Linked DNA regions of Homo sapiens. The protein of the gene in region 2 purifies or fractionates together with the protein of the main gene of each other region. This does not show direct contact. Each region holds a gene or a part of one and is shown on either strand. Other genes may lie near its edges.

Region 1 (4,542 bases), on a different chromosome or scaffold from region 2:
TCATAAGGGTTAGAGATTGCCTTCATAAAGTGCTTAGCATGGTGCTTTACGAAGAGCTGGTGCTTAACACAAGCAGCAAATGTTACTATGTTTTTTTTCTTTTATTTGCAAAGACACTGAAAGCAAACATTACTACTTGCTTTTCTTTAAAGGTTCAGAGCAAATTCTGATTTCATAGATTCCCCAGCTGGCATTACACTGCCTGAAGGTCTAGTTCTAAACATGATAGGCTGTAAGCTCCAGGAAGGTAAGGTTTGTATCTTTTTTTTTTTTATATTTTTCCAACTGTCTCTAAGTGCACATATAAAATACACTGTAATTGCTGAATTTAATAGTCAAGTCTGCTATTGACATGTAGCAACGATATATCACAGATAAAAATTAGAAGGAAATTTAAGTTTAAAGTAAATCTAAATTTGATTGCTTCTTTTAGAACATTTAATGTCTTCAGCAAGCTCTTAAGGTGAGAAACCTGAGATTAAAAAAAAAAAAGAAACCCTCTGAGGTACTTAAAATGGTGATCAAATTTCTATCAGTCTAACCTCAGGACAACACCTTAGAGCTATTTTATTTAAAGCATTCGTGCACTGAAGCCAAACCTTAAAAGAAAAACGCTGTTACTATTTCCAATTAGAAACATTTATCTTTTTAAAAAACACATTCTATGAAAGGCTGTATTTTAAGTTTATGCTTTTCAAGAGATTTTCAATTTTGTCTTCCTCCTCACTGGCCTTAAACTAGATGACTTAGTGGTGTGCCTTCTCTCCCCCACAGAATATACTCACTCTTAAGAAGTTCTGGCTGATTAGAATTCAGAATAGCATGCTACCAACTACAAATCATGTATGTAAGTGGAAATAGTACATCAAAGCAATATTCTTTCATCTGTTTTGTATTAAATAGCACATATCCTCAAAATAAAAATGGCTTTGAAAACATACCGATTCATCCTTCTTGCTCGTTCCAATACTTCAAACATATGCTCTTGAAATAAATCAAGCCGACGGTAGCGATTATTTTCAACATTCTTCCTAATTATGTCAAATGTAAGGGGTGGTTTGTTAGGAAAGTTGGGATCCACAGCAGGAATTTCTGCTAAAGAATCGCTGTAGCATCTTCCCTCATCATCCTGATGACTCATGACTGACACAAAAAGATTGTGGATAAGCTCTTGAATCAGCAAAGTCACATTTGGGACATGAGAGTCCTCATCTCCCTCCAGGTCTCTGCGTGTTTCAAGCAGGACTTTGTGTAGAACAAGAGCATCTTTGTAGATCAAAGACTCCGGCTCATTGTATGTACAGGCATTATTAAACATCATGACAAAGTCCTCAACCATAGAGTCAATATCTTGGTACTTGTTGGCCATCATGTGACTTCGAATTTTTTCCATGTCCATGGGCTTTTTAATAGTCAGATAGTAGTCAGGCAACTCAGATCTAGAGGGAAGCCTCAGAAATATGGCACTGAGGCGGCGACCCCTCTTATCAGTATAGTTCTTTACAGCTTCATAGACCTCATTTAGTTTCTGCTGCATTGGAGTCATGTATTTTGATTTTTTAGGAGAAATGCCACTCTTCCTACCTAAAGAGAGATATTTAATGTTAAATGAATAAAATAAATGAACCTAAATTTGTATACAGATGGTAGCATAACCACAAGGGACGATTCCAAGTAATTTGTAAAATCTAGCAATTAGCATGTCTATAGTGAAATATAACCTGCAGACAAAAAAGTACTAAAAATTTTTTTTAACTGTTTTCAGTAATTATATTTTTGATGGGAGACTACTGTAAGGTTGAGAAAGCTGTGAATAAGAAGGAATAAAGCAAATGAGTAGCTATGTGACATTCTATCACCTCTGGTATCCTGGAGAACTGAGATTTTCATCATGGGATAAAAAGAGATAACGGATGTTAAAACGTAGGACATTAATAATTACCTTGAGGCCTTTAATCTCAATTGAAAGTATCACTATGAACTTATGATGTAATTTATCTTTAAATATAAACATACAAACAAACACACAAATTTCCTAGCTCTGTCCACTGAAAATCGTACAAACAATGACTACCTCAGTAGCAGTATAGCCCACATTAGAGTTTTAAAATACTAATTCCAAATAGTAATGTTGAGGAGCCCTCACCTTTCAGCAGAAACATGAAAAAGGTAGGGCTCCTTGGTAAATGGCTGATTCCCAGTCTGGTATATCTTCAAACACTAGACAGTAAAGAATCTATCAATGACTTCTTACCATGACTTCATGTCAATAGAATATAGGAACCGGCTGGGCGTGGTGGCTCATGCCTGTAATCCCAACACTTTGGGAGGCCAAGGTGGGTGGATCACCTGAGGTCAGGAGTTCAAGATCAACCTGGCCAACATGGCGAAACCCTGTGTCCATTAAAAATACAAAAAATTAGCCGAGTGTGGTGGTGGCGCCTGTAATCCCAGTTACTCGGGAGGCTGAGGCAGGATAATTGCTTGAACCCAGGAGGTAGAGGTTGCAGTGAGCTGAGATCAAGCCATTACACTCTAGCCTGGGCGACAGAGCGAGACTCTGTCTCAAAAAAACAAAACAAAAAGAATACAGGAACGAGCCTGAACCAGCCTGAGTATCAATAAGGACAATAACTTCAATTACAACTCAGCCATATGTTTAAGTCTGGTAGTTCTTAATAATACGTACAAACAAACAACAAAATGGGTAAATATTGAAGGATGTTAGTAAACCAATACATATTTTGAAAACTGGTAAAGGTGAAAACAAAATAAAACAAAAATCAAGCCTTTATCCTTTCAAAAAGCAAGACACACACAAAAAAAACACTGTACCACTGGCTAATCAAATATTAGATAAGGCAAAGTTTCTCTATAGCTAATAAGGAATAAAATTAAAAACTATCACAATTTTACATCCCTTTCATGAATTAATAATTAATGAAGTATGCAACAACACCTGTTAACAGAAAGCCATAAATAGATTTCACATGTACCTGATGGAAGACCATATATTACCTATGAAGTCGGTTTTTCTGCCTAAGGGAGAGAACAGGGGATCAGACCTCAATCTGATCAAGCCTCTGGCTCCAACTACCAATTTATAGGAAATACAAAGGACAGAGGAACACATGAAAGTACAACATAGTGGGCCAGGAGCTGTGGCTCATGCCTGCAATACTAGTACTATGGGAGGCCAAGGTGGGCAGATCACTTGAGCCCAGGAGTTCAAGACCAGCCTGGCAACATAGCAAAACCCTGTCTCTACTAAAAATACAAAAAAATGAGCTGGACGTGGTGGCGTGTACCTGTAGTCCCAGCTACCCGAGAGGCTAAAGTGGAAGGACTGCTTCAGAAGGGAGGTGGAGGTGGCAATGAGCCAAAAATGTGCCACTACACTCCAGCCTGGGTGACAGAGTAAGACCCTGTCTCCACAAAACAAAACAAAACACAAAACACACAAAAAACCCCACAACATATGGATGCAATCAGCAAAACCCAGACTATGGGAAACTACAGCACAAATCTAATTTCTTCAACAGATAAATGGTAAGGGGTGGAAAAAGAGAGAGCTGGAGGGGAGTTTACAGATTAAAAGAAGTATCGGGCTGGGCATGGTGGCTCACACCTTTAATCCCAGCACTTTGGGAGGCCGAGGCGGGCAGATCACGAGGTTAGGAGTTCAAGACCAGCCTGGCCAATATGGTGAAACCCTGCCTCTACTAAAAATACACAAAAATCAGCCGGGCGTGGTGGTGCACACCTGTAGTCCCAGCTACTTGGGAGGCTGAGGCAGGACAATCACTTGAACCCAGGAGGCGGAGGTTGCAGTGAGCCGAGATCGTGCCACTGACTCCAGCCTAGGCAACAGAGCGAGATTCCGTCTCAAAAAAAAAAAAAAAAAAAAAAAAGAGGTATCAATCAGTTGCAGTATGTGGACTTTATCTGGATTCTACTTTAACCAGACACTGCCTCAAGACATGATACAACATAAGGGCAGCAAACCCCTTATAAAGTATCACCACCAAGGTGAAACTTAATCTAATCGCACCTTCAAAGTTAACTTCTATTTATAAGAAATAAGGGAAATAAAGAAAAAAGTTACAGATATCACAAGGAAGCAAGCCTGTCTAACCTAGAACTTGGGACACTGTACAGGAAAGTGACCTGATTTCTTCAATGAGTTACTGGCATGTGGAAAGAAAAGGAAGGAGACTGCTCTAGATCATGGGTTTAAGAGTATAACAATCTGCTGGGTGCGGTGGCTCATGCCTGTAATCCTAGCACTTTGGGAGGCGGAGGCGGACGGATCACTTGAGGTCAGGAGATCGAGACCAGTCTGGCCAACATGGTGAAGCCCTGTCTCTATTAAAAATACAAAAAAATTAGCTAGGCATGGTGGCGTGTCCCTGTAGTTACAGCTACCCTGCAGGCTGAGGCAGAAGAATTGGGGGAACCCAGGAGACGGAGTCTGTAGTGAGCCGAGATCGTGCCACTGCACTCCAGCCTGGGCAACAGAGTGAGAATCCGTCTCAAAAAAAA
Region 2 (3,178 bases):
CAGAGCAAGCTGAGCGCAGTCAGAGCAGCATCGTTCCTGAGGAAGAACAAGCAGCTAACAAAGGCGAGGAGAAGAAAGACGACGAGAACATTCCGATGGAGACAGGTAACCCACTAGCAACAAACGCAGAGGCAGTGCCAAGACTTTGTACGGCTGTCTTTAATTTAGGTTTTTCTTTCTAAGTGCAAGTATTCTGGTACCTGCCACTGAGGGTGATTCCCAGTACTAAATTTGACATGATATTGACATTCAGTATTTTAACCTTTAAATGCTTACATTATTTATCAAGATGTGGTTATTACCGTTAAGATTAATTGTCTTTGGTGTCCTAGGACAGCATTCTGCAAAGTAATACCTGTAAGCCAATCCTGCCCACCACTTGTTTTTGTAAATAAAACTGGAACACAGCCACACTTGTTTGTTTACATACTGTCTGTGGCTGCTTTGGGGATAAAACAGTATAGTTGAGTAGTTGCAACAACAACTGCCTGGCCTGCGAAGTCTAAAATATTTTCTATCTGGCTCTTTACAGAAAAAAATTGCCAGCTCTGTCCTAGAAAAACCCTTACTTCTAGGTATACTGATTTTCCTGATTAAAAGCATCCCTCAAGGTAAAAAATAATAATAATAACTTGTATAAATAAAACTTACATAAAGTACTGATTACATTGATCGTCACTTGTAATTTTGAGATCACCTTACCTCATGGCACTGTTTTAACACTGCCTAGTACACTGTGTAAACAGGACTAAGCTAAAAGTAGTTATGGAAAACAAAACCAAAGGCTTCCTGGAGCATCGTTGCAAGAAGTGGGAGGGACAGTAGTCATACTTGGTACTCAGATGACAACCATCTGGAAAACATGTAATGGAATATAGATATCTTTACCAGGTATTTCTGCAAAATTTAATCCAGCAGATTAACATTTGAAATGGTCATATTTTAAGTTTCAGTATCTGAGTCTCTTTCTGTTTTGTATGAATGTGTTTTTTATTGTAATGAATTTGGAGCATGAGCACATTTTTGTGGTTAAAACGAGCTTGAAAATTAAAATAACTGATTTTTGCTAATTTTGCAACTAGACAAACACTCAGTCCTTTGCCTCTGTTTTGGCATCTATGAATGGGGCATGTCTTATGCTTAAGGTTTGCAGGTCTTTACTCAGATTCTGTCCTAGTTCAAGGAAAAAACCTGAAGAAAATCGTTTGAGACTATTAGAGCTAAAACCTCATGCTTTTAATTTCTTACAGGAAACAGCCCAGCATGACTTTAAACAAAGTGTCTAAAAGACCAACCTTATATTATTTCTACAACTGCTTTCTCCTCGTTTAATCCATAGCACTACAGACTAACTCTCATTCACTGTCCAACAGAAATAAAATGCAAGTCACGTGAAATTTTATATTTTCTACTAGTGACATATTTTTAAAAGTTAAGCAAAACAAGTGTTTTAACAATATGTTTTATTTAATTCAACATATCCTAAATAAAATTATTTCAACACAGAAGGAACATTTTTAAAATCAGCTTTCCTTTTTTTAAACAGTCTTTATACACATCTCAATTCAGAAGCTAAATTTTCATCGGAAGTATTTGATCTGCATTTATTTAATAAATTTCATTCATTTACAGCTAAAAAGTAGATTTTCATACCCAAATTGTTCCAACATTCTTAAAAGTTCTTTAGTCACACTGGTTCATTTCAGGGGTTTAATAACCACATGTGGCTAGTGGCTTCTATATTGGACAGCACAGCTGTATACTGTCAGCATAACTAGAGTAAAATTTCATCTTGGAACTGACAGTGACAAATGTGTGATTACAGAGGAGACACACCTTGAAGAAACAACAGAGAGCCAACAGAATGGTGAAGAAGGCACGTCTACTCCTGAGGACAAGGAGAGTGGGCAGGAGGGGGTCGACAGTATGGCAGAGGAAGGAACCAGTGATAGTAACACTGGCTCGGAGAGCAACAGTGCAACAGTGGAGGAGCCACCAACAGATCCCATACCAGAAGATGAGAAAAAAGAATAAGTGTTGCCTTGTTTTGTGTGTTCTAAATACTTTTTTTAATGAAAAAATGTTTTTTGGTTTTAATGGTGTTACGTGGTTTGTGTATTAATTTTTTTTCTTGTCCATATCACACCACCAAAGGCTTTTGGACCATTTAGCATCATGAGCCTAATGGCTCAGTCAGTCACCTTTCTTAAGTGTTGTGAAGATGGCTCTTTTCTTTGGATCTTGTTTCTAGCCCTCAACTGCTGAAAGCCTCAGAATTTAGATTAATTGAGAAAACACCCACCTCTTTTAGAGAATTATCCTTTGATGCTGCAGAATCTACTCTTACAATGCCTTCCTACAGCTCACTGGGGTGCTTACCAAAGCCATAGCTTTAAACCTTCCCAGTCCCCATCAGTAGCTTCCTGAAAGTCTCCTCTCTTGTTTACTTCTGCAAAGGGTAGCTTCTTAAAAACGTGATCATGTATGAGTATGTATTTGTTCACTTACCCTTTTTTACTTTTAATCAATGTCAGATACCAAGAGTTGTGTTAAGCTGAGTGTAGTGTGTAACTAACTACACTTGGATCTTACTGATCCAGAAATAGTCCCCATAGTTAGAGTAGTTACTTATGAAGTGGTTATTAAAGTGAACACAGCACATATACATTATCTATACTGCTTTTTGTTATGATTAATACTGGGTATGTTCTGGTAAATCCATCCTTATTGTATAGAAAAAAAATTACTTTTTTACCAGGTTTTCCAAAGACAGAATAGATCACAAAGCTCAAGGAATTTAATATTCTTGTAATGGACTAGATAATTCAAACTGATTAGCCCATTCCAGAAGAAAAACAGCTGGGAATTAAGTTAATCCACTTGAAATTGTTTTACAATAATCAGAACATCCAAACCTCAAGGCTCAGGATCCCATAGACCAGAGCCCACCTTTTTGATAAACTTAGTAAAGTCTTGGAGACTAGAAGCAAGATAGTTTGTGACACATAAGCTTCCCAAAAACTAGAATAGATTTTTACTGAATAGTGGTATATCTGATGGTATATGTTTCTTAAAGGTCCAAATGTAATAAAAAAAAAAATGAAAAAAAGGTCTCAGTGTTTTTAATGCACTACATATTTGTATGCAAGACAAGCATCCAGTTTTTTTCTGTAATGCA

What was found. Proteins that work in one complex are often made in the same cells at the same time.
Region 1: the proteins of SMARCE1 (region 2) and PBRM1 purify together in Homo sapiens (affinity purification with western blotting; 11 studies listed by BioGRID and IntAct, with this or other methods). This does not show direct contact.

The regions. Positions count from the first base shown.
Region 1 is NC_000003.12:52,608,372-52,612,913, forward strand, and holds part of PBRM1 (protein polybromo-1), read right to left. Parts: intron 2,221-4,542; exon of another isoform or gene 2,163-2,220; coding exon of another isoform or gene 2,147-2,162; intron 1,585-2,146; coding exon 942-1,584; intron 1-941. UniProt on the Homo sapiens protein: Involved in transcriptional activation and repression of select genes by chromatin remodeling (alteration of DNA-nucleosome topology). Required for the stability of the SWI/SNF chromatin remodeling complex SWI/SNF-B (PBAF).
Region 2 is NC_000017.11:40,627,641-40,630,818, reverse strand, and holds part of SMARCE1 (SWI/SNF-related matrix-associated actin-dependent regulator of chromatin subfamily E member 1), read left to right. Parts: coding exon 1-105; intron 106-1,825; coding exon 1,826-2,034; 3' UTR 2,035-3,178. UniProt on the Homo sapiens protein: Involved in transcriptional activation and repression of select genes by chromatin remodeling (alteration of DNA-nucleosome topology).